Homo sapiens: one gene and its partners. The protein of the gene in region 2 binds, or shares a complex with, the protein of the main gene of each other region. Each region holds a gene or a part of one and is shown on either strand. Other genes may lie near its edges.

What was found.
Region 1: TAF1B (region 2) and UBTF share a complex: the UniProt entries of both Homo sapiens proteins name them as parts of the pol I pre-initiation complex.
Region 3: TAF1B (region 2) and TAF1C share a complex: the UniProt entries of both Homo sapiens proteins name them as parts of the transcription factor SL1/TIF-IB complex.
Region 4: TAF1B (region 2) and TAF1D share a complex: the UniProt entries of both Homo sapiens proteins name them as parts of the transcription factor SL1/TIF-IB complex.

The regions. Positions count from the first base shown.
Region 1 is NC_000017.11:44,209,481-44,216,895, forward strand, and holds part of UBTF (nucleolar transcription factor 1), read right to left. Parts: intron 7,225-7,415; coding exon 7,049-7,224; intron 6,510-7,048; coding exon 6,426-6,509; intron 6,330-6,425; coding exon 6,174-6,329; intron 3,803-6,173; coding exon 3,738-3,802; intron 3,460-3,737; coding exon 3,339-3,459; intron 2,975-3,338; coding exon 2,864-2,974; intron 2,527-2,863; coding exon 2,393-2,526; intron 2,268-2,392; coding exon 2,126-2,267; intron 1,852-2,125; coding exon 1,810-1,851; intron 1,673-1,809; coding exon 1,559-1,672; intron 1,468-1,558; coding exon 1,312-1,467; intron 994-1,311; coding exon 838-993; intron 755-837; coding exon 644-754; intron 254-643; coding exon 165-253; intron 62-164; coding exon 1-61. UniProt on the Homo sapiens protein: Recognizes the ribosomal RNA gene promoter and activates transcription mediated by RNA polymerase I (Pol I) through cooperative interactions with the transcription factor SL1/TIF-IB complex.
Region 2 is NC_000002.12:9,916,415-9,923,829, reverse strand, and holds part of TAF1B (TATA box-binding protein-associated factor RNA polymerase I subunit B), read right to left. Parts: intron 4,790-7,415; coding exon 4,719-4,789; intron 4,233-4,718; coding exon 4,010-4,232; intron 1-4,009. UniProt on the Homo sapiens protein: Component of RNA polymerase I core factor complex that acts as a GTF2B/TFIIB-like factor and plays a key role in multiple steps during transcription initiation such as pre-initiation complex (PIC) assembly and postpolymerase recruitment events in polymerase I (Pol I) transcription.
Region 3 is NC_000016.10:84,183,672-84,191,955, forward strand, and holds the start of TAF1C (TATA box-binding protein-associated factor RNA polymerase I subunit C), read right to left. Parts: upstream 3,387-8,284; 5' UTR 3,230-3,386; intron 1,913-3,229; exon of another isoform or gene 1,811-1,912; coding exon of another isoform or gene 1,809-1,810; intron 1,390-1,808; 5' UTR 1,319-1,389; coding exon of another isoform or gene 1,318-1,318; coding exon 1,180-1,317; intron 108-1,179; coding exon 26-107; intron 1-25. Other genes in the region: ADAD2 (adenosine deaminase domain-containing protein 2), read left to right, coding at 7,560-7,977. UniProt on the Homo sapiens protein: Component of the transcription factor SL1/TIF-IB complex, which is involved in the assembly of the PIC (pre-initiation complex) during RNA polymerase I-dependent transcription.
Region 4 is NC_000011.10:93,738,087-93,745,788, forward strand, and holds the start of TAF1D (TATA box-binding protein-associated factor RNA polymerase I subunit D), read right to left. Parts: upstream 3,410-7,702; 5' UTR 3,236-3,409; intron 1,246-3,235; 5' UTR 1,219-1,245; coding exon 1,151-1,218; intron 414-1,150; coding exon 23-413; intron 1-22. UniProt on the Homo sapiens protein: Component of the transcription factor SL1/TIF-IB complex, which is involved in the assembly of the PIC (preinitiation complex) during RNA polymerase I-dependent transcription.

The DNA of each region.
Region 1 (7,415 bases), on a different chromosome or scaffold from region 2:
CGGCAGGTGGTTCAGCTCCCCATTGGACAGCAGCTCCTGGGAGAACTTCTGGTAACCGTTCCTGGGAGGTGGGTTGGTAGAAGGAGGGTCAGGACCCCAACAAAGCAGCCATCCAGCCCTGACCCTCCCCGACCTCCAGGGCAGACTCCAACCCCCAGGCTCACATGGGAGGCTTCTTGGGTTCTCCCTGGAATTTCATCTTCTTGGAAGAATTTGTAGCAGCTGGAGGTGCCCGCATCTCACTCAGCTCTCTCTGGAGGGAGAAAGGTCACGCTCACCCCCCAGTCCCACCCCCAAAATACTGCTGCCTTCTGCCTCATGCCATCAGCACCTTAGCTGGCTGTCTTTTTCTGTGCCAGGGAGGAGGAGAAACAGGTAGCTAGTGAGCAACTTCCTAACAGCTCACGTCTGAGGCAGGCACCACAGTTTACAAGTGCTTTCACAACTGCTCGCATCCTCCGAGTCAGCCTGGAGGTTAGCAATGTCACCCCCACCTTACTGATGAGAGACAGAGGTTCAGAGAAGGAAGCTGAGACTTGCTGAGAGTCACAGACCAAGGCTGGGACTTCTTGCTCAGAGCTGCCCAACCAAAGGGGAGTTCCCGAGCTTTCAATGAATGGGGTGGCCCCAGCCCCATTCCTACCTCATATCGCTTTTGGTCTTCGGCTGCCTTCTTAATCCACATCAGTTTCTCCTTCTTTTCCATGTTATTCCAGGTCATTTCCATGGCTTTCAAGGCCTTCACCCGGTCATTCTGGGGACCAATAAGGGTATCAGCCGTGGGAGGGGTCACCCGGGGCTAGAGGCTGCAGTACTACCCTTTCCCACCCCTGTCACCTTGAAGCGGGCCAGGTAGTCGCCGATAACGCTCTGTTGCCAGATCTCCTCAGCTCTTTTGGGGGACTCGGGCAGCTTGCCCCGTTCCTCGCGCTCCCCGCCGGGCTTCCTCTCCGACTGAGCCTTGAGCGCCGCCTCTCGGGCCTTGTACTTGGCCTGCGGGGATGGCCCGGGCGTCAGCCTTCCACCCACCCCCAGGGGGCGCGCGCTCCCCGCGCAGCAGCCCAGGCGCTCCCGCCGGCGGGCAGAAGCATGGGCTGGTGCAGATGTCTCCCGCCTGGGGCTCGCCCCCGCCTGGTCTGCGGCGCTCAGCTGACAGCTTCCCGCCTTCCGGCTGCTGGGCGCCGGCCCCACGTCCCAGCCCAGGCACCGCGTGGCTCAGGCGGCCAGGGGCGAGGTGGCACGGCCCGCCAAGGGGAAGAGGGGGCCCTGGCAGCCCCCCTGGGGGCACAGCGCTCCGCCAGGCAGCCTGACCTTCTTCTTCTCAGACAGGTCGTTCCACATTCGGGCCAGCAGGCGGGTCAGCTCGCTCTCGGAGAGCTCAGGCCGCTCCTCCTGCAGCTGCCGCCGTTTCTCCTCCGAGAAGATGAACATGGCCGACACGGGCCGCTTGGGCTTCTCGGAGCCGCCCTGTCCAGGTGCAGAGGGTCGGGGTCCGTGGGTGCTGCCAGGGAGCCCAGTCTTGCCCACCCCCGCCTGCGCGGCCGCACCCTCTGCCCACCTTGCCCCCTTCCTGGGCTGGCTTCTTGGAGGCGGGGCTGGTGGCCTGCTTCTTGTTGATGTTCAGCATCTTCTCTTCCCCCAAGACCCGCTGCTGCTCCTCCTCAGGCAGGCTCTGGACAGGAAAGAGGAGCACGGGGCTGCATGCCTGGCACCCAGACTGCATGGTGCCCTATCTCCAGGGGCTCACCAGGGCTCTGCCTGCCAAGTCCCAGTCTTCTCTGCCCACTGCCCCACCGGAGGAACACTCACCTCGAGGAAACGGAGCAGCTCCACCTCGTAATCTTTCTTTTTCTGGGAAAGTGAGTGGAGTCAGGATCAGTCTGGAGACAGTGTCACCACAGACCCTGCAGTACTCGGAGGACAGTGACCTTCAGCGGGCCTCCAGAGCCTGGGTGTGGGCTGGACTCCCTGCCTGGACGGGCTCAGTTGCTAAGCCCAGCCCAGCCCCACACTGTATTGGAGGCAGGTACCCAAGGCACACGCCACCAGGGACTGACTGGCCCAAGATGGGATCAGACCTCATGCTTCAAAACCCCAAGGCAGGGTGGCCCCTGCCACAGCTCACCTGATCACACTTCTTGTGATAGGCGTCCTTCTCCTTCTGGGACAGCAGCTTCCACTGCTGGCTGCACAGCACCATGCGCTCTGTGCTGGGCACGTCCTTCATGTTGGCCATGAGCTCTGCGCAGTACAGCGAGTAGCTGTTCCTATCAGAGCCGCGGGGAGAGAGGTGCAGCCCGTAAGCGAGCAGGGCAGCAGGCCTTCTCACCTGCAGAGCCCAGCCCAACTTCCCAGCTGCCCACTCGCCCACCCATCCCAGGGCAGCGCTCACGGAGGTGGCTTGGTGGGTCGCCCGTCAAACTTGTCCTTGAGCTGGCGTTCGGCCTTGGTGAGGGTGGACTTGGTGATACCCTCCTCACTGATGTTCAGCTCTGGGTGCTTCTGGATATAGTCTCTCATGATCTCCTGCAGAGCCAGGTGGGGGGACGGAGGGCAATGGGGTGTGGAGTTAGCTAGGGCAGGGGCAGGGGGAGAGCCGCTGGGGAGGGCAGGCAGGGAGCAAAGCTGGGGGTGGCTGCGCGTCAGTGGTGTCACACGAGACGTGGTGCCCTGCCCTGCCCTAGCCTGAGATCTCATGGGGGTGGGGGGTGGGGAAGGTAGGGGCAGAGGTGAGGGGCCCAGAAGGCCCCTCCCTCAACAGAGGGATGGGGAGTGACACCTCCCGCAGAGTGCGGTGGCCACGGAGTCGGAGGGCAGAGGCTCGTGAAGAGCCGGACGGGGAGGAGCGCAGCGGAAGCCTAACCTCGTACTCCTTCCGCTGCTCCAGGGCCTTATGAATCCATTTCAGCCTCTTTTTGTCCGAGAGCTGAGACCACTGCTTCCCCAGGGAGTCCTTCACCTCCTTCGTAGTGGCCTGCAAACCAAAAGCCGTCAGACACGCACAGGCAGCCAGGGGCAGGGGGAGGGGGGAAGGGGGAAGGGGGCACAGAGGCCCCCGCCCCCTCAGGCCATGGGAGGTCACATCAGTGTCCCCCACAGGCCAGGAGGGGAAGGCGGAGAGGCGGGGATCCCGCCTGGGTGCAAGGGGACTGGCTCATACACGCACGCACACACGCACACGCTTGCACGCCAGCTGGCCCGGGCCCTGTCCATGCAGCCCACCCCTGGGGAGGGGCCTCCTCTCCTGCTCCCCTGCACCGTGCCCGGCCGACCTGGCGCGGCTCCCCCCTGGCCACCGCCGTGCATCCTCCACCCCCAACCCTTGGCCGGACACTCACATCTGGCCGCACTTTGAGATACACCTTCTTCTCGTGGGTGTACCACAGCTGCTGGGGGGTTTTGGGCTTCTCTGGGATGTCCGATTTCTTGGCATTCTGGATTAGGTCGGGGTGATCCTCCCTAGCCAGGACACGGGGAGCAAGGATCAGCAGGGGACGCTGCCAGGGCAGACTCAAGCTAGCTGCCCCACCCACCAAGCCTCCTGGGCCTTTCAGCTGGGGCTCAGTGGGACGGTGGCTGCCTGCCTGTCTCTGTCCCTGAGCATGACACACTAGGGCTCACATGTGACCCATCCTCTTCCATGCCTCAGAGATGGCAAACTCAAGGCTCTGGCCAGGGTTAGCCTATTCTGCTGCCCCCAGTGCCCCGTGGCCCTCCTCTGGGCTCCACTGCCTTACCTGAATCGGGCCAGGTTTCGCTCGAACTCCTGTTTCTCTCTCTGGAAGTCCTGAATATATTTCATCTGGGGGGAGGAGGGGATGGGGTCACTCAGGACCCAAGGGTATCTCACCCTGAGCTATGAAGGCCACCCAGACCCCTCCTCGCTGGCTCTTCTGCCTCCCACGCTGTGATGCAGGGAGTGGAGGCTGGCGCCCTGCCCGCCTCCTGGCGGGACTCACCACAGAGCAGACCTGCTGGCTTCTACCACAGATGGTGGGAGCTGCAGGGGTCGCCCAGACACTGAATCCTACATCCTATTCTCTCCTTCTGAGCAAGAGTCCCAGAAGGGGGCCATGGCATTACCCACGGTCACACAGTGCGCAGTGGCAGCGCTGAGCCTCCCCCACTCGTTTCTCCAACACCATAGAACTCTCACAGTGGCGTCGGGTGCAGGCCTTGCTCCTGTCACTCCCTCTTCTCACTGTCTGTGGCAGCTGACATTAGTCTGTCCCCTTGTACGTAGCCTCTACATCTATGGCCAGGGCTGGGCTGAGTCCTGTTTCCAAGGCATGAGGGGAGATTGTGTGGAGGGGAACCCAGAGCGAGTTCTTCCAATACAAGTCTCAGCCAGCTACCCTGCATCTTCCTGCCCAGTTCTCACACCATCACCTTCTTCTCTTTCTCCAGGATCCTGGCTGTCTGGCCCCTCCAGCCCTCCCTCCCTCAGCCCACTCATTCTTTCCCACCACTTGGCTTCCCTTCCCTTCATCACCCCCTTTTTAGCCTCCCCACTCTCACCTCACTCCCTCCCTGCATCTTTCCCCACTTCTCCATAGTCTCCTTCTTGTTCCTCCTTTCCAATGTGTCTCTTTCTCTTCCTCATCGACCTTCTCTCTTGGCTCCCACACAATGTCCATCTCTTCTTTCATCCTCGCGGGCTCACAAGAGTGGCACTGGCAGGTGCCAGGAGCTCATGGCAACTGAGCCCAACCCCTGCCTCTTATAGAAGCACCAGGCATAGAAAGGCAGTGCTCCTTTCCCACAGTTCCCACAGAAAACCAGAAGCAGAGCTCAGCCTCCTCTTCCCCCATCTCAGTCCTCCTCAGACAAAACAGTTTTAGACCTGAAGGGGACCACACAGACCTGGCTCACCTCACATAAAGACCAGGCCCACAGAAGTGAAATGACTTACCAAAGGCCCCATACACAGCGGTTCAGTGGCAGAGCCAGGAGAACAGGCCCAAGTCTTGTGTCCCCCAGGACAGCACCTTGTCCACTCTACCAGTTTCTTCTGGCCTTCCCTGGCTCTGACTCTAGAGCTTGGCCTCTCCCTCCCATCCCATGAGAGTGTTTGGGTGTGTGCAGTCAACTGTCCAACATCCTCATCAAAGGGGTCAACAGTTCCAGCAATCCATACCCCTCTCTGCTTGGGCAGTGGTTGCAGACAGCTGGCTTTTTTGGGTACAGCACCAAGGGCATGTGAGTCTGCAGCCAGGGTATGCCAACCAGGAAAAAGGGCTACTCATAGCATGGCAGCGGCCAGTGCCCCCTTTTGAGAACTGGCTGTGTATGACTTTGTTTCCTCTCCAAGCAGATGTGCTTCTTGTCTTTCCTGCTGCCCTTCCCCATCTATCCCTGGCTCTGTCTCCTTGTCCCGTGTCTCTTCTTTGTGTCCTCTGTCCCCATCCCATCTTCCTCGTGTCCCATCTGCAGGCTCCTCCAATGTTTTGCTGCCTATCTCTGGGAGGGACCTCCTGAGCTCTGTGACTGAGCCCTGCCTGGGAGGCTTAGGCAACCCTCCACCCAGAGTTAATGCTTTGATGGTCTGGGACAGTGCCCGACCTCTGCAAGGAACAGTATGAGGCCAGGAGGGACAATGTGTGTCCTTGAGTGAACACGTGTGCGTGGAGAAGTGCACTTCACAGGTGGACGTGGCAGTAACAGCACTGGACTGGGACTCTGGGGCACTAAATCCTGCTCTAGCATCAATAGTTGTGTCACCCGGGACACTTAACCCTCCTGCACCTCAGTTCCTTGCCCACAAAACTGGGATAACCTTTTCCTAGGGTTACCTTTATAAAGACATTGCAAGTATCAAATGAGACCATGACGGGAAACGTCATAGAGGGTGAAGAAGTGCTGCGGAGCCTAACAGTGAGGATGGGTGTATGGGGGAGAGAGAGCTTGAAACAGAATGCTGTGGGTTTTCTGTAGGGGGAAAGGTTGGTCTGAGCACCTGCTGTCTGGTTTACATCTGTGATGGTGCCTGTGCCTGACCATGTGTGGGCCGAGGAAGGGGCAATCAGGTGTGGCTGCCCAGGACCTATTCTGCTGTGCTGACTCACCCTCATCCCTGATGCCAGGTTTCTCCAAGGCCTACCTCCAACTGACCCACACCACACCAGCTGCTCCCAGCCTCTCCCCTCCTCCCACCTTAACTCTCCTCCCCCCACCTTCTTCTTCTCCGGAAGCTCCTTGTATTTCTTGGACAGAATCTTGGTTAGGTCCAGGTTGCTCATCTCAGGGTGGAGTTTCGCATACTTGGCCCGCTTCTCCATGAAGAAGCGGAAATAAGGGGTCAGGGGCTTCTTTGGGAAGTCTGGGTGTTTCTGGAAGAAGGGACAAGGACACAATGGAGGTCAAATACATCCCTTCTTTGGACCTTTCCTCCCATACCCCTCATGCTCCTCCTCCTAGTAACTCACCTTGAGTTTTTTGCCTTTGTAAGGATTTTTAACATGTTCCTGAGCATCGAGGATCAATTCTGTCAATGTACGGAACTTCCTCACCTGGAGGAAGAGGGGTGGGAGGAAGGGGAAGTTGGGAAAAGGAAAATGCCACACAGTAGTATACCCCCATCTTATAACGGGTCTCTTCTACTCTTTACTAGACTAAATTTACCAAAGAAGAGCAGAGGCCAACAGCCAAATGAAGCAGGCAGCATGACACCCAGGCACTGGCCCATGCCTACCGCAGAGGCCCAGGCAGTCAGTACACACCAAAGGCCAGCAACAAGGGGACTAACTGACCTCAACCTGGTTGTCCATGCTAACACCTCCGTCAATCTCAGCATGCTAGCACCTCCGTCAATCTCAGCACAGCTCAGGCTGTTTGGCTCAAGACCACTCAGATAGAAAGTGGCATAACTTTAAGCCAGTGCTGTCAACCGTGCCACCTCCCAAAATGCAAAGGGGCAGGTAGAGAGCTAACGGGAGACCACATGAATGCCTCTCCTGGTCTCTTTCCTTCCTGTTTACAGCCTGTTTCACTTCCCCCACCACGCTGAGTGGGGGGTATGTGTGTATGTCAGAAAAGGGGGATCAGTTACCTCATTAGAAATCTCCACCCATTTGAGCTTGCACATGTCTCCAGAAAAGTCTTTAAATGCTACTTTTTCCCAGTCCATGTGTGATTCGGTGGTTTTGAACTTGGAGCTGTCATTGGATGGAAGGTTGTTCTTCATGCATTCCAGCAAAGTCAGCATGTCTTCCTGGGACCAACGGTCTGGTAAAGAGTAACAGAGGCCATCATGCCTGGCTCATGCTATCCCCCCGATCTGTTCCCCAGTTCTTGAGTGCTCAACTCTTCCTCCCTAGGGCATCCCAGCCCCTGGTTGCTTCCCATCTGAAGGCACAGACAAGATATGGCTCAGCCCTAAGGAAACTGTGGCCATATTGGATCAGGGCAGGGACTCC
Region 2 (7,415 bases):
CTCTTCAGGATAAAATCTGAAAATCATTGACATGACCAATGCAAAGGAATCGATTACCTCAGACATGGCGCTGACCCTGGGTTGGGGTTCTGGCCTTTCCCCGTGGCTGCTATTAAGCAGTGCCACTCTTAAATCAATTTTTTTTTTTTTGAGACAGAGTTTCGCTCTTGTTGCCCAGGCTGGAGTGCAATGGCGTGATCTCGGCTCACTGCAACCTCCACCTCCTGGGTTCAAGTGATTCGCCTGCCTCAGCCTACCAAGTAGCTGGGATTACAGGCATGCGCCACCACATCCAGCTAATTTTGTATTTTTAGTAGAGACAGGGGTTTCTCCATGTTGGTCAGGCTGGTCTCGAACTCCAGACCTCAGGTGATCTGCCCGCCTTGGCCTCCCAAAGTGCTGGGATTACAGGTGTGAACCACCGTGCCCGGCCAACAGTGCCACTCTTTAATCGTTGTAGATGCAGCTCAACTTTTTTTTTAAGCAGCAAATCTTAATATAGACAACTTTATCATCTCCCACTGTATTTTCTACAGTTCAATTATCTTTGATTGATACCAACTTAAGAAATAATTTTTTTTTTTTTTTTTTTGAGATGGAGTCTTGCTCTGTCGCCCAGGCTGGAGTGCAGTGGTGTGCTCTCAGCTCACTGCAACCAATGCCTCCCGGGTTCAAGTGATTCTCATGCCTCAGCCTCCCGAGTAGATTATACACGTGCACCACCACACCCGGCTAATTTTGTATTTTTAGTAGAGGCAGGGTTTTGCCATGTTGGCTAGGTTGGTCTCGAACTCCTGGACTCAAGTGATCCACCTGCCTCAGCCTCCCTAAGTGCTAGGATTACAGGTGGAGCCACCAAGCCCAGACCAGGAAATAACATTAGTTAACAGAAAATTAGCTTTGTTTAAAATAATAATGGTCATACTTATGTTTGATTGAGTACTTACTATGTGACACACATCAAATACCTCATTCAATTCTCACAAGAACTTGGGGTAGGCCCTATTTTCCATTCATTCATTCAATAAATACTTGGTGGGCACCTAGTCTGTGCTAGGCCCTGGTCTAGCCGCTGGGATTTTTCATTAAATAAAACAGAGTCCTCCTTACATTCTAGTAGTCCTTACATTCTCAAGGCCCTTACATTCTAGTGTGGGGAGATGGATAAATAAGCAAAATAAATATATAATAATATATTCTATTAAATAGTGATGAAAACTACAAAGAAAAATGAAATAGGCCAGGGGACAGAGAATAATGAGGGGTGTTGGGGGAATGATTGGTGCTATTTTAGGCAGGATGGCTGAGAAAAATCTCTCCAAGGAAGTGAAATTTGAGCAAAAACCTGAAAGAAGTGAGCCCATGTGGATACATGGGGGAAAGAACATTCTAGGCAGGAGGCAGAGCAGGTACAAAGGCCCATGTGGGGAGTGTCTGGTAAGCTCAAGGAGCAGCTGGGAGGTCACTCTGAACATAGGGTGACAGCAAGGAGGTCAGAGGACAGCAGAGGGAAGGTCAAGAGGGCCGTGTTGGCTCCACAATGTTTTTTGGGTCTTCCTTTCAATGAGATGGGAGCCACTGAAGGTTTTGAGAAGAGGAAAAGATCAGTATTATCCCCACATTTACAACTGGGTCAGCACAGCTGTAGAGAAGTGAGTAACCTTCCTACAATTAGCAAGTGGCAGACTTAGGATAGAAACAGCCCGATTCTATGATTCTATAGCAAGTCCTCTTAGCTACTAGAAAATTTCCTCTTGGGCAATTTCTATGTCAATATGGGGATGAGATTACTTTAAATATAGTCACAATGAGAAAAGCCTTTATGCTTTTATTTTTCACACGTTAATTACTGAGAACTTTAGTGAGGGAATATTAGTCTAGTCTTTTTATTTTTAACAGGAAGACACTGAAAGGTAAAGTAACTTCAAAGTCACAGAACTATTTTATTGAATGGCCTTTTCGCTATTATTATATAAAACGGAACTAAAAGTTAAAATAGGCAAGGAGAAAAAAACTTCATGGCATAGCCTGAATCTTTTTAGTTTTTCTCCTCAAACTTTATTATAAAAAATTTCAATCATACAGCAAAGTTGAAAGAATTTTATGGTAAACACCTGTATACCCCACTGATTATCTCTGTAATTTTTAATCCATATACTCCTCTCTACAGCTATTAAGACACTACAGAAGGAAAGTGGGGAAAACATACTCTTATTAAAAAAATCTTCTCTTCAAGTGGACTTGGAAAACAAACTTCCTGAGTTACCTTTGTATCTATCTAGGACTTAGGATAATGACTTATTTTTATCAAGTACTCAAAAAATACTTTTGGAGTTGATTTTCAGTACAATTAAAGAAAAACGAATGTGCTCTGGGGAGTAATATGTTCTTCACTATCTACTGCCTGAGGAAATTTTCTGAGTCATATGAAAATAGATGGCTGGGCGCAGTGGCTCACACCTGTAATCCCAGCACTTTGGGAGGCTGGGGCAGGAGGACTGCTTGAGCTCAGGCATTTGAGACCAACCTGGGCAGCATAGGGAGACCCTCGTCTCTGCAAAAAATAAAAAATTAGCTGGGTATGGTGGTGCACACGTGTAGTTCCAGCTACTTGGAAGGCTGAGGTGGGAGGATTGCTTGAGCCTAGGAAGTTGAGGCTGCAGTGAGCCATTATCGTGCCACTGTACTCCAGCTTGGGTGACACAGCAAGACCTCATAAATTACTTAAGAATTTACACTGTATTATTCCAATATCGACCGTTTATAGGGAATATATAACTCTTCTGAAAAAATAAAGCAAAAATAAGAAGGCAGCCTATTACTAAGCCGGAAGTCTAAGAGCCAGTATGCCACAGAGCCGATCATTAATTAAACCTGATGAAGTCAAAAGCCTGTGTCTTACTATTTAGACATACAAGTTTTCCACTATGTCCTACACAGATTCCTCTCCTCAGTGCAGCTTCCCATCTTTAGTCCTATTTTATCCAGACCCAATAACCATAAAAGCGCGTGTTGTTTTCTAGACTTCACATGCCCACACTCGACAGATACGAGGACAGAACATAAAACATGAAATCAAGGGGACAAAGTTGAATGAAGATCAGAGTATTTCACTGACCAAGTATCTCCCTGCAGATTTTTTATTAGTTGTAAGGGGAAACATAGTAACTACACTGTGGAAAAACGACACAGCACCTTGACTGGGTGATCACTATTAACACCTGAGGGGCAAATGGACCCCCCGCCCCCCGCCCCAGTCTACAGACGCCATACCCTGAGAAATGATACCCTGAGGAGGACACGGCACTTGTTTTGGCCAGGGATGCAGAACCTGAATCTAAACATGAGGAACCATCACAACCATACTCAGAAACATTGTGTAACATCACTGACATTTCTGAAAAATACAGCTCAATGTCATGAAAGACAAAGAAAGGCTGAGGGACAATCAGATTAAAGGAGACCGAAGAGATAAAATCAATCAATGCCATACCTACTCCTGAACTTGATCCTGCTATAAAAGGACACTGGGGGTCTAATGAGAAAATTGGAATATGGACTGTGGGTGAGATAAAGGTATCGTATCAGTATTAAGTTTCCTGAGTTTGATAACTGTACTGTGGTCACTTAAGAGAATATCCTTATTTTTAGGAAATACTTAAGGAAGTATTAAGAGGTAGAAAGACATGATAAAGGTAACTGACTCAGAGAAGTGATATGTACTAAAAAATACAGCACATTCTCCTGATCAGCATTTACAGCCACTTCTATTGCTTGCCTGCCACACTGCAGGTTAATTTAGCTAGAGGGGATAGTTTGTGCTAATTGCCCTGTATCCTCTTTCTTGATTTTTACCAGCTTTCCTAGAACTCCTACACAAGACTCAATGTATAATTCTGATTTTCGTGACTTTAAGCTCACCAGCTTCTAATTCCAACAAAAAACCTATCTGGCTCTTATACAGTCAACTACTTCAATTATATGTGACTTTTTCTAAAAGCATTATTACCATCTGCAGAATTTCTGTGTACTAAGCCAATATAATGAATTCTTAGTCAGCAGTGATTGGCCTTTCTCTTTCAGGACTCCCTGAAGGCTGTGTCCATGGAAACACGTTCTATCAGTGTCCTCTTCAGTCCAGTTGAACTGAAAACTTGAAGGGCTTTTTTTTCCAGCAGTTGCTGTTGACTCGACCAGTGTGCTAAATTGTTTCTGTAGATTCACCACCATTTCTGGAACCGGAGAAAAAAAGGAAACAAAATAACAAGTAATGTTAAATCACAAATAAAGCCTGGAATTTACTTGATAGGAATGTACCAATATTGGTTCCTTAGTTTTCGCAGATGTACCACAGTAATGTAACAGGATAACGTTAAGGGAAAATGAAACTGGATGAGGTGCATGGGGGAAACCTTACTTCAAAAAGAATGTACAGTCTAAAAGGAATTCTATAAGCAAAGAATTTCCAAAATCATAACGATTTAGGATTTTAGATTTTGGCAGGAACTGAGGCTCTGTTTTGAAGAACGACATATTCCTGAAGTAGATTCCTGCAGAGATTTCTTGCAGAGTATGATGCTCCTTTGGATGTACATGTGCCCTGGAACATTTGTTTAAAAAAAGTAAAAAACTTAAGCATTCAACATTTCAAGTCCAGATATTTAATTTTTCTACAACTGTGTTGCTACTTGGTATTAAAAAGACAAAATTTGACTTACCTCTTTTTTTATATGCTACTGGTTTGTCGACAAATGAGTAGTAGAGTGGCTTTTCACTTTTCCACAGGTACCTGTACAAGGTAAAGAAACAGCTGGAGCAGGACGGAGATGAAACGGACATAAACACATTGTCTGAAGCACTATCTGAGATTTCTGATATTTCGTTATAGCTCTGGCTTGGAATGGCCTACTGGCACATGTCTATATTGCCTATTGAACTTAGGCCCTAGAAGGAACCACTGACCAACAGCCCAGGCCAAGAGAATGGTGTGCTCCTCTCAAAAGCCACCCAGATGCTGTGACATCTTGAAGAAGCTATTAATTATACAAAAAACATAGAAACTGTTTCCTTCACCATAAATTTCCCTTGCTGCTCATTCTCATAAAGTGAAGCTACCTCAGAAACAACTGTTCCTCATTGCCTTTGTCCCAATGCCTTTTTGCTGAGAGTTGTTAGTAGTACTTCTGATTCTGATAACTTACACACAGTGAACAGTAAATGCGTCTCTCTGGCATCTGATGCCAGGAAATCTATTCTATTCCTGGTGTAAAGGAGAGGAAAAGACTGGATTCCAGGATGACACAGTCCCAGTAGTCCCTGTTCTGACTCAGCCTATTCTTGCCAAGGGAAGGATGGCCAGGGAGTTTCCACTGTAAAATGGGGATCCTGGATTGCTCTGGCTCTTGGGGTTCCCTCCAGGACAAACACTAAGAGCCATCTAAGGTTCCTACAGATGAGGGTGATCAGTTCCAGACTCCAAAAGGAAGTGACATGTTCTATTTCTAGTTCTAGTGGCTGTTGCTAAACTTTGCCAAGCAGACGCTGCTGCTCTGGAACAAAGACAACAAGGTTCATTCTTGGTCTCATTTTTATTATTTCTGTGTTCCCTAGAGCAGAGAACTTTCATAACTTATAATAATTTTAAAAATCCACCTTCTTCTTAATCCCAGGCCATTTTCTTATTTTGAAAGACACTGTGGCAACAAGAAAGAGTACTGAATCAGAAGACCTGGCTCCACCATTTTCTTTTTTTTTTTTTGAGACGGAGTCTCGCTCTGTCGCCCAGGCTGGAGTGCAGTGGTGGGATCTCGGCTCACTGCAAGCTCCGCCTCCCGGGTTCACGCCATTCTCCTGCCTCAGCCTCCCAAGTAGCTGGGACTACAGGCGCCCGCCACTACGCCCGGCTAATTTTTTGTATTTTTAGTAGAGACGGGGTTTCACCGTTTTAGCCGGGATGGTCTCAATCTCCTGACCTCGTGATCCGCCCGCCTCGGCCTCCCAAAGTGCTGGGATTACAGGCGTGAGCCACCGCGCCCGGCCGGCTCCACCATTTTCTAGTGGCATGACCTTGAATGACAAATTATGGAGGTTCTTAAAGGCAGAGACTGTCTCAGCCATCCTTATGCCCCTAGTGTTGTCAGGGAGTGGTAGAGAGTAGGAACTCATTTAAACATTTGTTGAAGAATAATTGGGTGAATAAATGAACAAAGAAATGAATTTAGCATCTCTAAACTTATCCTCTACTTTCACAGGGTTATTCTGAAGAATAAGATGCTGTATGTATTGGTTCTTTAAATCCTATACAATAATTAGAATTATTATTAGTACTTGACAAAGTGCCTGGCTAGTAGATACTCAAGAAATATCTGTGAACTTTCCAGAAAAACAGATTAAAAATAGGAAGCCAGAAATACAAATATTTTAAAAATCTGTAGCATCTATAATAATTTCTCACCATTTATTTTTAATACTAGGAAGTAATACGTATATAAAAGCACACATTTTTAACAATATTTTAGTAATATCATTTAGCAAATAATCATTTTAACCGATTTAAGAACTGATTTTTTCAAGAATTTTAAAAAATACTTGATCAAGTCAGTAAAATCATGACTATACATAAAACAGATGTTGACTTTTTATTTTGAATTTCTGCAATGATATTAAATGTTAAGAACAGAAAGGAGTCGGGCGCAGTGGCTCATGCCTGTAATCCCAGCACTTTGGGAGGCTGAGGTGGGAGGATCACCTGAGGTTGGGAGTTTGAGACCAGCCTGACCAACATGGAGAAACCCCGTCTCTTTAGTAAATACAAAATTAGTTGGGCATGGTGGCACATGCCTGTAATCTCAGCTACTTGGGAGGCTGAGGCAGAAGAACTGCTTGAACCCGGGAGGCGGAAGTTGCGGTGGGCCGAGATCGTGTCATTGCACTCCAGCACTCCAGCCTGGGCAACAAGAGCAAAAATCCATCTCAAAAAAAAAAAAAAAAAAGAACAGAAAGGAAATTTTTCTAATCATTAGGTAGCAGTAGAGATGTAATTAATGTTATACAGGAGATGGTTTCCTGAAAATCATGTGAAACTAAACTTTAGTGAACCATACCACATTTAAAATATATCAGAGAGTTTGTCATTTAATGTTATGGTAAATGAGTTAGCGATTCTTTAAAATATATTTTTTTGCCATTAATTTTCTTAAATAATAAAATCTCAAAGGATAAAGAAGTTCCCTGAACAGTCTAATCCCAATCCCTGGGCACACTCACTGTTAAACATTCCTTGTGAATACCTAATCTAAATGGAAGTTTCTTATGCATTTACAGTAAATGCCTACACAAGTGGCAATCATGCCACAGATCAAGAAAGCATTATGATGCCCTTGGGGTGATATGCCCCAAGAATGGGAAAGGTGATC
Region 3 (8,284 bases), on a different chromosome or scaffold from region 2:
GAGCCCGGGGGAATGAGACCCTTACCGATGAGGGGAGGCAGCATGGGGAGAGGCCCAGGGGTTGCCGGCTCCCACAGCAGGTCCTTGGTCACATGCAGTGCCCCATTCTGAAGGGAGGACAATCGCAAGGACAGTATCATGATGAATGCCCTCCCTGGGCCAGGCTGTGCACAGGCATTCATCTCTTATCAACTCATCCAATCCTCACAACAATCCTGCGAAGCTGGGATGACTGGCATTGTCATTTTACTGCTGAAGAAACTGAGGCACACTGCCATTTGCCCCAGAAGACAGAGCCGGTAAAGAGAAGAGCTGGGATGTGAACCCAGGCAGCCTGACCCCAGAGCTCCTGTTTCCGACCTCCACCTGTGCTGGCTCTCAAAGAAGGAAGCCCCTCATGCCACCAGTGGCTGGTCCACATCTCACGTAACCTCACTTCCATTCAGGAGACCTTGCAGTCACTCTGGGAGCCCGGCAGGCGGCTCCACCTCCCTTTGCTGGGCTGGCCTGGGATGTTTCGGCCCAGACATTCAGGGGACAAAAGAGCTAGGAAACCAGACTCCCAGAGGAGCCCCAATTTGACGCCAGACCCTCCCTCGTAAGGATGCCATCCCTGACCCCCGTTCCCCAAGCCTCTGCTCCACTGTCTCTCTTTTTATTTGCTCACCCACTTGCCTCTGCCAGGCTTCATTCCCAGACAGGGTGTTTCCAAGGGGAACTAGGCGGCTGAGGATTCCAAGCAAAGGGCCAGTGTCCCTCCAGAGGCAGCAGAAACCCTGCAGGTCTATCCTCCCCTCTCCCAACCCTACTATGCTGTTTCAGCATCCTTCTGCTTTCATTCCAAGCTCTGATCACATTTTGTAAACACCTTATCCATTGGATAAAGTTCACTTGTTTATTCTCGCTCAACTCAGCTCTCCGTTCCAGGAAGGGAGGGGTCAACCGACTGATTCAGGCAGCATTCTCACGGTCTCATAAGGGACCCGGCATAGTGGGGGCATCCGTCTAGGGATGGCAGGGTAGCCCATGTACCCCAGAGGAGGTGGCAGAGCCTGTGTCTCAGCAGACTCGTGTGAATGCCACCACTCTGTGGCCTTGTCAACTGATGTGAATGTGAGACGGGGGACCCAGGGAAGGGATGTCCCTGGAGCTGCCAGGGCCCCCTGCCTGCATCCTCACCTCTGAGTTCTGGGGCTGGGCCTCTGGCAGAGTCAGTGCGTCTCGCCAGCTGCACATGAAAGAGAGGTCAGGGACGTCGCTCAGACCAAGGGGGCCGGTCAGAAACAATGCAGGGCGGAGGGAGCTGGGGAAGTCCATCCTGGAAACAAGGACCAAGCACCACACTGGCCACCTCGAGAGACTGGAAGCTGGTAAGGGGCGCCAGAGTTCCTGAGGAGTGAAAAGTGCACTACGGGAAGCATATGTTCTTTGAGGAAGCAGATAACAAAAAACAAATATGTAGCCCAAGGCCAAGCAGTAGTGAGAACTGTATTAAAGCCAACCACCCGTCCAGGAGAAGGGGATCTGGTAGTGGGCTGAGGGCGTGGTTTCAGCAAAGCCAGCCAGGAAAAGCCTCGTTGAGAAGGTGGCGTTTGAGCACAGCCTGAACCTAGTGAAGGAGAGAACCATGTACGCAACTGGGAAGAGGGTTCCAGGCCGAACGGTCAACAACTGTGAAAATCCTAGAGCAGTGAAGTGTGTGAGAAAATGAGGCAGCCAGAGTGAGCGAGGTGGAGAGCGGTGGAGATGGAGTCAGAAAGACGGCAAGGGGCAGCCTCTCTCCCGGCTCGTAAGTACCGTCATCATACATTTACAGACTACACCCCCAAGACGCTCAAGTTACTCCACAGCCAGGGACTGCATCTGAGCATCGTCTTCCTACTGTCAAGCACAGTGCCTCCCAGAAAATGCACTAGGGGTTGAAAAAAATAAATTTCTATCACAAGGGGCCGGGCGCGGTGGCTCACGCCGGTAATCCTAGTACTTTGGGAGGCCGAGGCAGGCGGATCACCTGAGGTCGGGAGTTCGAGACTGGCCTGACCAATGTGGAGAAACCCGGTCTCTACTAAAAATACAAAATTAGCCGGGCGTGGTGACGCATGCCTGTAATCCCAGCTACTCGGGAGGCTGAGGCAGGAGAATTCCTTGAAGCCGGGAGGCGGAGGTTGCGGTGAGCTGAGATCGCGCCATTGCACTGTAGCCTGGGCAACAAGAGCGAAACTCCATCTCAAGAAAAAAAAAAATTACATCACAAGGCTTTGGTAAATACAGTCCTCTAGAAGTATGAGCAGCCATAGCATCCCTCCTTTTTAATTAACAAAAATAACAGGGGCAAAAATAACAGCAGCGCTCGCTGACCAAGCGCCAGCATCTATCTGCCAGGCACATGCTAAATGCTGCACTCTTCTATCGCCGTCCCTGTTAACAGAGTTCAGGAAACGAAGGCTCAGCAAGAACTTTAGTCCAACAGCTCTTAGCTGCCACAGCCAAGACTTGATTCCCATCCGATTCAGAGGCAGAGCTCCGAACCAGTGCTCTCGCATGCACCGAAATGCAAACGCTAGCATTAGAGTCTCGCTATACAAAAATCTTTTCCCTTTGGCCGGGTGCGGTGGCTCCCGCCTGCAATCCCAGCACTTTGGGAGGCCAAGGCGGGCGGATCACCTGAGGCCAGAAGTTTGAGACCAGTCCGGCCAATACAGTGAAACCCTGTCAATACTAAAAATACAAAAATTAGCCGGGCGTGGTGGTGTACACCTGTAATCGCAACTACCGAGGAGGCTGGGCACGAAAATCGCTTGAATCTGGGAGGCAGAGGTTGCAGTGAGCCAAGATCATGCCACAGCACTCCAGCCTGGGTGACAGAGCAAGGTTCTATCTCAAAAATAAAATAGAAACAAAAATATTTTCTCTTGGAACCGCATAGCCTGAAACGATCCTAGACAGGCGGAGGGCGCTGGTGGAGAGCACGACCCCACAAAAGCCCTCAGACAAGGCAGCCTCGACTTCCCCGGCCGGCTTCCCGCCCTCGCTGCGGGCTCTCCAGGACCCTTTAGACCTCCAAGGCTACAGAACTCAGTCGGATCCGCAATAACGACAGGCCGGGGACTGCGAAACGTGAGCCTGCCGCGGGGACTGGGGATTGGGGGCGTCCCTCCCCTCCTACATCTGCGGGTCCGCTCCTCGAACACGCGCAGTCCGCGCGGAGGGGGCGCATGCGTGCACTTACGTGACCCCGGCCTCGTCGTGGTCGTCTGGAAAATGGGCCTCGGCGTGATGCTCGCCGGACCCTGGCACCACGAGGGAAATCTCAAGTAGAACCCCAGCTTTGGCACTCGGGACGGGTCAGCCCCGCCGCAGCTACCCACGGTCTTCCGGTTTGGACCGGAAGTGCCTCCTGCGGAGGCAGGAAGTCCCGCCTCCCAGCCAGGCCTCTTAGGGTCCTGGCGCGCCCCCTCCCGGGAGGAGAGGGAACGGGCGTGCAGGCGGCGCGTGGGCAGCGGAAATAAAGCTCCCTTGAGTCCCAATAGTGGAGGCCGGGTGGACTTAGGTTCGAATCCCACATCTACTTCACCAATTTCCTCAGAGTTGTATTAAATTAATCATTTAACGAACTCCCACAGAACACCTACTATAAGCCAGACCTGTATTGGTCAGTAGGTATCCTACTGATTGTCCTTAAATCCCAAGAAGCGGGCTTTACAAATAAGGGTACAAATACCTACTAAGAGTGAAGCTTTTCCAGGGGTGGTCAGGCAGGGAGAGCTTTAGGCAGTGGTCTTCAAACTCTAGCTAGCGTGCGTCAGCAGTAGCACCTGGGGGGCTAGTTAAAACACAGTCTCCAATTCGGTGAGTCTGGGGTGGGACCTGATGATTTGCCTAAGTTCCCAGGTGATGCTGAAACTGCTTATCTGGGGGCCATGCTTTAAGAACCACTGTCCAGTCATGAACCTTACCGTTATCCTAACATAGTACTTCTCAAACTTCAGTGAGCCTTAGAACCACCTGGGGGGCTTGTTACAAGTTTGCTAGGCTCCACCCTACCTCTGCCCCCCGAGTTGCTGATTCAGTAGATCTGGGATGTGGCCCAAGAGTCTGCATTTCTAGCAAGTTCCCAGATGATGCTGGTCCAGGGGCCATACTTTGAGAACCGTTGCTTTAAAGAATCAATTTCCAAATTCTCAGCTGTCATCTATGTCTTTATTTATTTTTTTGAGATGGAGGCTAGAGTGCAGTGGCACGATCTTGGCACACTGCAACCTCCGCCTCTTGGGTTCAAGCAATTCTTCTGCCTCAGCCTCCCGAGTAGCTGGGATTACAGGCCTGCGCCACCATGCCCGGCTAATTTTTGTATTTTTAGTAGAGACGGGGTTTCACCATGTTGGTCAGGCTGAGTCTTGAACTCCTGACCTCAAGTGATCCGCCTGCCTAGGCCTCCCAAATTGCTGGGATTACAGGATGAGCCACCACGCCTGGCCTATATTGTTTTTATCTGGAAGTTTTTACCTGGACTAAAAGTGCCAGCAGGGCTGTGTTCCTTTTGAGAGGCTCTAAGGAAGAGTCCACTATCTTGTCTTTTCTGGCTTCTGGAAGCTGCCTGCATTCCTTGGCTCATGACCCCTTTCCATCTTCAAAGCCAGCAATGCCAGTCGGATTCTTCTCATGAGGCCATCTCTCTGGTTTTTACTCTTCTGTCTCCCTCTTTCCCATGTAAGGACCCATGTGATTATAGTAGGCCCGCCCAGGTAATCCAGGATAATCTCCCTATTTTATTTGTTTTATTTATTTTTTTGAGACAGGGTCTCACTCTGTCGCCCAGGCTAGGGTGCAGTGGTACCATCATGGCTCATTGCAGCCTCAACTTCCCAGGCTGAGATGATTCTCCCACCTCAGTCTCTCGAGTAGCTGGGATTACATGCAAGCACCACCATGCCTGGCTAATTTTCTTTTTTTTTTTTTATTTTGAGACAGAGTTTCACTCTGTCACCCAGGCTGGAGTGCAGTGGCGTGATCTTGGCTCACTACAACCTCCACCTTCCAGGTTCAAACGATTTTCCTGCCTCAGCCTCCCGAGTAGCTGAGACTACAGGTGCCTGCCACCACACCCAGCTAATTTTTGTATTTGTAGTAGGGACGGGGTTTCACCATATTGGCCAGGCTGGTCTTGAACTCCTGACCATGTGATCCACCCGCCTTGGCCTCCCAAAGTGCTGGGATTACAGGCATGAGCCACCACGCCCGGCCTAATTTTTGTAGTTTTTGTAGAGATGGGATTTCATCATGTTGCCCAAGTTGGTCTCTAACTCCTGGGCTCAAGCTACCTTCCCACCTGGGCCTCCCAAAGTGCTGGGGTTACAGGTGAGAGCCCTATTTTAAAGGCAGCTGATTAGCAACCTTACTTCCACCTGCAACCTTAATGCCCCCTTGCCAAATAATATACTCATAGGTTCTGGGGATTAGGCTGTAGACATCTTTGGGGGAACCATTATTTTGCCTACCACACTAATATTCTACATTACCCTTGTAAAACGCCTATCCAGCTTTGGCACTGCGAGGCCAGTTCCATTTCTTCCTTTCCTCCTTTCTCTGAATAAGCCATTATCAATTTGCTTTTGTAACTGACATATACTCAACATGCAGTAAAGCACACGAGTCTTAAATGTACAGCTCATTGAATTTTTATTCATACATAGAAACCCACATGAACACCACCCAGATCAAGACAGAGAACATTTCTATCACTCAAGAAAGTTCCAGCCAGGCACAGTGGCTCATGCCTATAATTCCAGCACTTTGGGAGGCCGAGGTGGGAGGGTTGCTTGAGTCCAGGAGTTCAAGACCAGACTGGTCAACAGAGCAAAACCCCCATCTCTACAAAATTTTTTTCTAAAAAGAAAATTCCCTGGTGCCACTTCCCAGTCAATACTTCCTTCAAGAAGGAACCACTATTTGGACTCTTATCACCACAGATTAGTTTTGCCAGTTCAAGAACTTTACATAAGTGGAATCATGGAGAGGATGTGTCTGGCTTCTTCCACGCCATGTGCCTAATAGATTCACCTGTGTTGTGTACGCAGCTGTTGTTTCCTTTTTAAATTAGTGAGTCGTGTTCCATTGTATGAATATACCATTGATTTGTTCACGCAACCTCCTGTTGGTGAGCGTTTGGGGCGTTACTGGGTTTGATGACTTTGTGGAAGTCTCTCTGTGGATATGTGCAGCCCTCAGTCCATTTCTGGACATCTGCTGTGCTGTCCCTTCACTCTCCTGGGCCTCATCCCACTCTCTGGGCTGCACACACACACAAAATGGAATTGTTCTTCCTGATGTCAATTCTTGACATGTTGGGGAGGCTGACTACCCAGCCCACCACACCTGCTTCTTCCAAGTCAAAGGTTCTGGGAGGACTCCACCACCTGGTCCTCATATGCCCCAGCATCCTCACTGTCACAATCCTGGAGAGAGCTGCCAGGCCCAGCTTCAGCAGCAGCAGCAGCAAGCACTGTGACAAATCTTACAGACACTGGTCATGCTTTCCCAAGTTAGTGGCTACTGTAAGACTCCGTTAAACTTGCAGCCTCCTTCAAGCAAATACGCGTTGCATCACAGTAAGCCTTGTGTAAATTGTCTTCATCCCTGTCTTTATCTTATTTTTCCTATGTCTCTTGATCTCTAGCTCTTCACTTTAAACAATTGTTATCTTGTCTTATTTGTATGAATTAACTCAAAATCCCTTCTTAGGGGGGAAAAAGGCAGAGTATCAAATGGCTATTTTCTTAAAAAAAATTATTTATTTATTTTTTGAGGCAGAGTCTCGCTCTGTTGCCCAGGCTGGAGTGCAGTGGCGCAATCTCAGTTCACTGCAGCCTCTTCCTCCCAGGTTCAAGCGATTCTCCTGCCTCAGCCTCCTGAGTAGCTGGGACTACAGGTGTGCGCCACCACGCCCACCTACATTTTGCATCAAATGGCTAATTCTTGGCTGGGGAACACTTATGTTTGGCTTCAGAAAGGCCTGCAGTGAAATTTTATATCCAATGATCCTGCTGACAGTGTGAACCCCTAATTCCTGTGTTGAAGTCTCCAGGCTCAGCCAGTGAAGCAGCTGAGCAGCCTGTGATGTGGAGGTGCCTAGGGGCCTAGGGCAGGAGCTAGAGTGTGAAACTGGACCTGACGCCCCCAGATGCTCCTCCCCCGCCTTGCAGGCTCCGCGACCACCCACGGTTAAAGAAGCAGCTGCTAGAGCAACCCCTCACCCACCCACCGGAACTTCCCTCCAGGCCATGGGACGTTGGTCTCAGCCGGAACTTCCGTCCAGGCAGTGGGACCTTGGCCTCAGCCATAAGCATCCAAGCCGCCGTCGTTGGGAGACTGGCCTTCCCATTGGCAGGGTGCACTGTCCATCACAGATCTCAGGGCTCTCATTGGCCATCGTATGGCAGGGGTGGAGCTCACCACGCTTCGTCCGCGTGCTCCCCACGTGAAGGCACCCGCCCTGCGCGTGTGAAAGGGCGAGAGCAGCGCGAGATAGGGCCTAGCGCCTCAGATCTTCGTTGGCGGCCATGGCTTCGGCTTCTCAGGGCGCTGACGACGACGGCAGTCGTAGGAAGCCCCGCCTGGCTGCATCGTTGCAGATCAGCCCCCAGCCCCGCCCCTGGCGACCGCTACCCGCCCAGGCCCAAAGTGCCTGGGGGCCCGCGCCCGCGCCCGCGACGTATCGCGCGGAGGGCGGGTGGCCCCAGGTCTCGGTGTTGAGGGACAGTGGGCCTGGGGCAGGGGCCGGAGTCGGGGAACTGGGGGCAGCCCGGGCGTGGGAAAACTTGGGGGAACAGATGGGGAAGGCCCCGAGGGTCCCTGTGCCCCCAGCAGGGCTCAGCCTGCCGCTCAAAGACCCACCTGCCAGCCAGGCCGTGTCCTTGCTCACGGAGTACGCGGCCAGCCTGGGCATCTTCCTGCTCTTCCGGGAGGACCAGCCACCAGGTGAGGCCGGGCCGGGGCATGGCTGTGCCAGAGGGCAGAGCCACGGAGGGCTGGGTCCCAGGACGTGGGGAGCAGGGGGTCTGGGGAAGGTGGACCTTGGTCCCTATGCTCAGAGACACCGCCGGAGCAGGACCTGGCCTGAGCTTGGGACCTTGGGGTGGACCCTGCTGTGAGCAGCGATCTCCAAGGATCACCAGCCACACCAGATGCTCAACTGTGAAAGAGTCATGGCAGGTGAACATTCTTCCCACCTGACTTCCAGGGAGGTTAAGGCCCCCTGGTATTTCTGTATACGTTTTTAGAGCCA
Region 4 (7,702 bases), on a different chromosome or scaffold from region 2:
TGTATGTAAAATGCTGACTCACCTCAAACGTTAAAATTTTTCTCCAAGGTGCGTTTTTTTCATTCTCTGATTCTAAAAATGGGAAGCCAGATCCTCTGCTTCTAAATTGTTTCTTCTTATCTATTAGTGAGTATATAGGATTTCTCCTTCCTTCTGGTCTTCCCCGTGGTCTTCCTGTTGGCTGGTACCTCCTCTTTTTCTTTTTTTTATATCTCTTTTTCCTGTTCTTGAATCTTTCAAAAATAGCTTTTATAGTCAATGGTATTGGTTCAAAAGATGAGTCACTTGATGAATCACTTGCGTGAACACTTTCAGGTGTACGAACAAATTTTCGAATGGGGTTTCTTTTCTCCCCTTTAGGTGAGTAAGGGATACACTGAGTTTTAAATAAGCTGCTATCAGAAGAGTTATCACTAGAAAAATGGGAAAAAAATTAATTTCATCTTCTTTTCTTACTGCTTATTACCATTAATACCCAGTCCTAAATGTACATTTCTTCCAAGACCAACTCAGAAAACATGCCCAGAATTAAAAATTTTTTAAAGGATGGGCTCAGAACCAGCTAGCCTTTCTACTGATCATCCTATTTAAATAGCCCATAATGCTACAGCTCTTATTAAAGAGTTTTGTAGACATCGTCTTGCTGTCACCCAGACTGGAGTGCAGTGGTGCAATCACAGCTCACTGCAACCTCAAACTCCTGGAAACTCCAGGGATGCTCCTGCCTCAGCCTCCCAAGTAGCTAGCTAGGACTAATGGCATGCACCACTATGCTCAGCTTACAAAAAAACTGTATCTTTCAAGACAATGTATGAGCTCCAAAAGGCTGTATGGTTCGGTTCACTGCTAAGAGTGTCTGAGTAAAACAAACACAGCCTACCGAACCGGAGGATGTAGTCTGGAAGAGATGCTAATATGACCCAAAGAATACATTTTTTCTCGACGAATGTGTCCCATAATATATTCACATTTTGAATTTAAAGTATTTGCAATGCTATTATATCAATCTATGTAACTAGATAAACTTGGAAGGTCAGTGAAATCTAGTTTTCCTTCTTTCCCAATTCCTGAAAATTATCTTTACTGTCACTCATTATATACAATAGTTTCTCATAATTCAGATACAATAAACATGATTGAATCCACTCACCTTCGATTTGCAAGTTCCACAGCATCAGATGTCACATGGTCAAGAGAATCTATTCCTGATTTATCCATCAATTGCTCTTTGTTTTAAACAGTTTTCTGAAATTATGAAATTTAGTAAATATGACAAAGCTTCCCTAAATATTGACAGTATCTACTACAGTGTTGAACGTGGTCAGACTATGCCAATGATTTCAGGCGAAATCATTTACCAAGGTTAAGCTTCTTATCCATTTCAGATCAGTTTCTTTAAAAAGAAATCCAGAAATTCTATTCACAGGTTCTTTCAGTTGTTACCCTCTAAATGTATTCAACGCAACAAGATTCCAAAAAAGTACCGTCCCTTCCAACAAAAGCATCTTTCAATATAAGTAAAAAATGTAGTTTTATCATTAGCCACATATTTTAACGTACAATTACCAATACAGTATTAATGTACAATTAAAAGCCGTTTTCCAAGATCAAAGGGGGAATTCCTAAAGCAAAGTGTGCCCTATATAAACCAGGAAAAGGATCTCCAATCAATAAACCATTTTAAACTCCTAATCACCTCTCCATTATAATTCCTAGATTCTTCATTCCTAGATTCATTTAAGCAACTGAACTTTGTCATATTGTATCTTTGCCATTATTGGTGGAAACTGACAAGTTCTGAATTCTCAACCTTTTTCAATGAACTATCATAATTCTTGTGTCTTCATCCCCATGGTAGAGAGTATACAACATACCAAAAAAAAAAAAAAAAAAAAAGAAAAAGATTCCTTCTTGTGAGCTAAAAGAAAAAAGAAAAACAGGTTGGTCTGGGTGGCTCAGGCCTGTGTAACACAGCACTTTGGGAGGTCGAGGCGGGCGGATCGCTTGAGCCCAGGAGCTCAAGACCAACCTGGGCAACGTGGTGAAACTCCGTCTCTACAAAAAATACGGAAATTAGCCAGAATAGTGGCGCGCGCCTGTGGTCAGGAGGCTGGGGTAGGTGGAATACCTGAGCCTGGGAGGTGGAGCTTGTATGTAGTGAGCCTCAGCAACACAAGGAGACCCTTGTCTCTACAAAAAATTCTTAAAATACTGGCTAGGTGTGTTGGCCCGTGCCTTTGCTCCCAGCCACTCGGGAGGATCGCTTAAGCCGCGGTGGAGGTTGCTGTTAGCCGAGATTGCACCACTGCACTCCAGCCTGGACGACAGAGCAAGACCCTGTCTCAGGAAAAAAAAAAAAAAAAAAAAAAAAAAAAAAAAAGGCATGGCAACAAAAATTAAAGATAACTACTTATTTCATTATTGTACATGCCTTAGTCAATCTCTTGTCTCATTCTGTAGCTTCTTGGGACCTGACATGAGTCATTACATATAAATCCTAGGATGAACTAGCAAAATATTTAAAATATGAAACGATAAGGTCACCAAGAGCTCAGATTTGTTAAATGCCCCCTGTGGTATTTTCCTGGTACAAGGTCTTACTAGTTTTTTTAAGTACAAGATTCTACAAAGTCATTAAATATCGAATGCTCAAAAACGGAATTCAACAAAAATTTGCCCCCATGCTTTAACGGTATACCTGTAGTTAATTTTTTTTAAAAGTAGGGATTATCAAAATAAAGCTAGCTCAATAATCACTTTTTCGAAGTGTTTAGAAGACACTCCTACTTGGGTGTCGATGCCTCCGTGGGGATTCTGCAATTCTTAGAGGCCACGTGGGCAGAGAGCGGCGCTTTACCCGGAGCTAACGCTGTGACCACCAGCGCCTCTCACCCGGCAGCGCCTAACCTGCAGAAAACCGGCGCGAGTAATGGGTACCTCACATACGAAGGTTAAATCATTTAAATCACGTAATAAGGTTAAACTTGTCCGCAACACGATTTAACACCTCCATCTCAAGATATAATGAAGCCCGTCCACACTACAACCACGTTTGTGTGGGACTCATACCAGCCGCGTGGCGCGGAGTGGCCTGCGGCCGTGATCCCTTCACCCTCTCGGACCGACTTCGGAGTCTCGATCCTCCGGACCAACGAAGGGGCCCCGGGAAACCCCAGATATGCAACGCCTCCCCCGCCCGCCAGGCCCGGACGGCCTCGCCCTCTTAGCAACCTACCTAAAACGGCCTCGCAGTGGCCCCAACCGCGCACTTGCTGCTTGTAACCCAGGCCTCGGCCCAAAACCCGCGACTGGCCTGGTGTCCTAGAGCTCTGTACACACCACCCTCCCGACCTCAGCCCTCCAACTCCCGATAACCAGCCGACCTCCTCCAACCGTGCGGAAGAAAAGGGTTGGCTATTTCCGTGGCCCAAGTAATAGTCAGGCCGAAATCTCGCGATACAACTTAGCTTCCGGGAAGAAGGCGAGCGGTGGGAGGAGACGCGACGTGGGGGCGCCATTTTTCTCGCCGCGCAGGGAGGACTGACTAACGTGGGCGGAGCTCTAGCTCGCGTATTCTGAGGAGGCGGGGTTGGCCTAGGCGAAGATCCGGACTCTGGGTGTTTTGCTACCGTGACCGTTTAGGTGAGTGGAATAGCCAAGAACATTTCGGCAAATAACAAAAACAAAACGTGCGGTCACTTGTGAGTGGATGAGAACTGTGAGGAAACAGCCTCTCAGCCCGGTTCGTTTCCGGTGGTCTCGCGTTTGCTGAGCTGTCGCCTGGCTTTCTAAATCTGGTCCCGGGTGTGTGGCGAGGGTGACGGGTGGGATGTGTGCCTGAGTGTTTTGTAATCCTTTGTCTATTTCTGCCTTCAGAAACCCTTGTGTGTTAAAATATTGGAGAAGGCTCATTCTTTGACCATGACTCGAAGTGTGTAACCTTTGTGCTGGACGCCAGTGTTATTCCATAGCACGCCCAGGTCTCCTCCCCACTTTTGCACCTGTTTCGTAAGCTCACCCTTTCTGCCTCCCAGGAGTTGGCTAACATGTCACAAGTGAGACCTGTGGAGGATTTGTTTTTCCTAAGTTTCCTCCTACATCCCCCCTGCCCCACACCATTAGTTCCTTGACCGGTTCCTGAGTTAAGATTAAACAGTGTAAACTAGTTTAGTTTTGGTGGGGTTTTTTTCTCCCAAAGTAATTTTTTTTTTTTTGAGACCGAGTTTCGCTCTTGTTGCCCAGGCTGGAGTGCAACGGTGCGATCTTGGCTCACCGCAACATCTGCTTCCCGGGTTCAAGCGATTCTCCTGCCTCAGTCTCCCCAGTAGCTGAGATTACAGGCGTGCGCCACCATGCCCAGCTAATTTTTGCATTTTTAGTAGAGGCGGGGGTTTCTCCATGTTGGTCAGGCTGGTCTCAAACTCCCGACCTCAGGTGATCCTCCCGCCTCGGCCTCCCAAAGTAATTTTAAAAAGGAATGAACTGGTTTGATTTTTCCGCTTTCAAAATTCTGTTTTCATATGATAAACCACAAAAATCAGTAAAGCTGTCTAGTCTTATTTTATAGTTCACATTTTAGGATTGAACGGGCCTTAAAAGTAATCTGGTCTCTTTACCTGCTTTGCTCCATAGTTTGGACAATTCCGGGGATAAAAAGTCCGATCCTTTAGGCAGCCCACTGCATTTGATCCACAGGGTCTGGGCAATGACGAAGCTCCAGGACTGGTATGGCATGTCCCTCACTGCCGTATTCAGCAGCAAGCCTAGCTGTGTAATTTGTGAGGCTCAATGCAAAATGAAAATGCAGCGTCCCTTGTTCAAAAAGAAGGGGAAAAGTGCTATTAAAGGGAAGGAACATTTAACTCCTAATGCAGAATCATTGAAATTTCACATTTCATTTTGTATTTTTTCTTTTTTCTTTTTTTTTTTAGAAACAGAGTCTCGCTCTGTCGCCCAGGCTGGAGTGCAGTGTGGCCCGATCTCAGCTCACTGCAACCCCCACCTCCCGGGCTCAAGAGATCCACCCACCTCAGCTTCCCAAGTAGCTGGGACTACACGCGCCCGCCACCACAACCGGCTAATTTTTGTACTTTTAGTAGAGACCAGGTTTCACCATGTTGGCCAGGCAGGTCTCGAACTCTTGACCTCAAGTGATCCGTCTGCCTCGGCCTCCCAAAGTGCTGGGAGTACAGGCGTGAATCACCGCGCCCGGCCACATTTGGTATTTCTCTGTTTGTGTTATAGAGACAGGGTCTTGCTCTGCCACCCAGGCTGGAGTGCAGTTGAAGCAGGATATTCCTCTGACCCCTTCGTGGGTCTTGCGGCTGCGGTGCCTCACTTACTTAGCCCACGGCTCTCAACTCCTCGCGGGAGGGGGGGCGCGAGTGAATGAGGCGGGAACTGGAGTGCTGGAAGCCACGAACTCCAGTCACCCAGGCCTGCTGCGCTCCACCCTTTATGGGAGGGTGCGTGGGGGTGAGCAGATGCTGGAGCCGGAGCGAGCGCTTTTGGTCGCCGGTAGGAGCGAACTCCATGCAGGCCCTGCGGCTGTGTCTAGGGGATGCCCGCGACCCCTGAAGACCCACAGCCTGTCTTACAACCTGTCATGGTTGTGAAAAGTTTTGAGAGAACGTCTGCACAGTGTCTAACGGTGTCTGGTATATAGTGTGCACTCAAATGGTAACCAGTTTAGTTGCGATAGTTGGTCTACCCCTCCAGGTGTTAACCTCTGCAGCTCCGTTTCCCTTCTAGACCCTATTTCTGGGCCATCGACTCCCACCAATTAGGCAGGAAAATACTGTTTGCCTCCATCTGGCCCAAGGCTGTATTCCTGGAGTTTATGTGAGAACCTAACTCCTTTCTCAGCTCCAACTGTAACCCTCTCCCCACCTCCAACACACACATAAACACTCACATACACATGCTACCACACTGCCTGCTGTGCCATCAGCCTGCCTGAAGTTCACATCATTTTAGAATTGGACGGGCCTTCATAATTTAAATTTTATTATGAAAAAGTGATAGTCTAAGGAACTCATTTGATTTTTTTGTCTAAATGTCAAATATAGAGTAGAACGCACAAGTGTCTGTTATAGAAATACTTGAGAGTCCTATATGCACTGTTATCCACAACCATTTAAGCACTTATCCACTAATCCCTAATAAGTACCCCTAATAAGTACATTTCTAAACCAGTTATTCAAGCTACATCCTCCCAAGATTGGACTTTGTTTCTACTTTGGTAGGGACATAAATAAACGGAAACAACTGACCTAACTTTTTACTAAAGAGATAATAAAGGGAATAAAATTAAGATTACATTTGGATTTTAACTTGTGTTCTTATTCCTACTGCCAGCAAAAATATGTAAAGTGTTTTTATCATTATAAATGAATATACTATTCATTGTGCAGATTTTGACATGTTCATAAATAAGTTAGTACCCAATGTTTGCTTGATAAAGAATGTGATAAAATGTTAACATTTGGGAAATCTGGGTGAAGAATGTATAGGAATTATTTGTATGTAATATTTGTCAATCTGAAATTATTTAAAAGAAAAAGTTAAACTGTCTCATTCCTGAACAATTATAAATTATTCAACCCAAAACTGAAGGGGGCCTGCCCCTCCACACCTGTGGGTATTTCTCGTCAAGTGGGAAGAGAGACTGAGAAAATAAATAAGACACAAAGTATAGAGAAAGAACAGTGGGCCCAGAGGACGGGCACACTCAGTATGCGAGGACCTGCACCGGCACTGGTATCTGAGTTCCCTCAGTATTTATTGATTACTTTTCACTATCTCGGCAAGGGAACTGCGGTGGGAGAACAGGGTGATGGTGGGGAGAAGGTCAGCAGGAAAACATGTGAGTAAAGAAATCTGCGTCATAAATAAGTTCAAGGGAAGGTACTGTGCCCAGATGTGTAAGTAGGCTAGATTCATGTTTCTCTTTACCCAAACATCTCAGTGTAGCAAAGAGTAACAGAGCAGTATTGCTGCCAGCATATCTCCCCTCCAGCCACAGGGTGGTTTTCTCCTATCTCAGAATAGAACGAATAGTCGGCTTTACACGGAGACATTCTGTTCCCAGGGATATGCGGGAAACAGAGGCCTTCCTCTTTTACTAATCCTTCTCAGCACAGACCCTTTATGGGTGTCAGGCTGGGGGACGGTTAGGTCTTTCCCTTCCCACGAGGCCATATCTCAGGCTGTCTCAGTGGGGGGAATTCTTGGACAATACCCACGCTTTCTTGGGCAGAGGTCCCTGCAGCTTTCTGCAGTGCATCATGTCCCTGGTTAATAGAGAATGGAGAATGGCGATGACTTTTACCAAGCATACAGTCTGCAAACATATTGTTAACAAGGCACATCCTGCACAGCCCTAAATCCCTTAAACCTTGATTCAATACAGCACATGTTTCTGTAAGCACAGGGTTGGGGCTAAAGTTACAGATTAACAGCATCTCAAAGCAAAACAATTTTTCTTTGTGCAGATCAAAACGGAGTTTCTTTTGTCTTCCTTTTCCACATAGACACAGTAACAGTCTGAGCTCTCTTTTCCCCACACAAAACTATGTTTAAAATAATTTAAGTATGATTATATAAGATTTGGGGGCCGGGTGCAGTGGCTCACGCCTGTAATCCTAGCACTTTGGGAGGCCGAGGCAAGTGGATTGCTTGAGCTCAGGAGTTTGAGACCAAC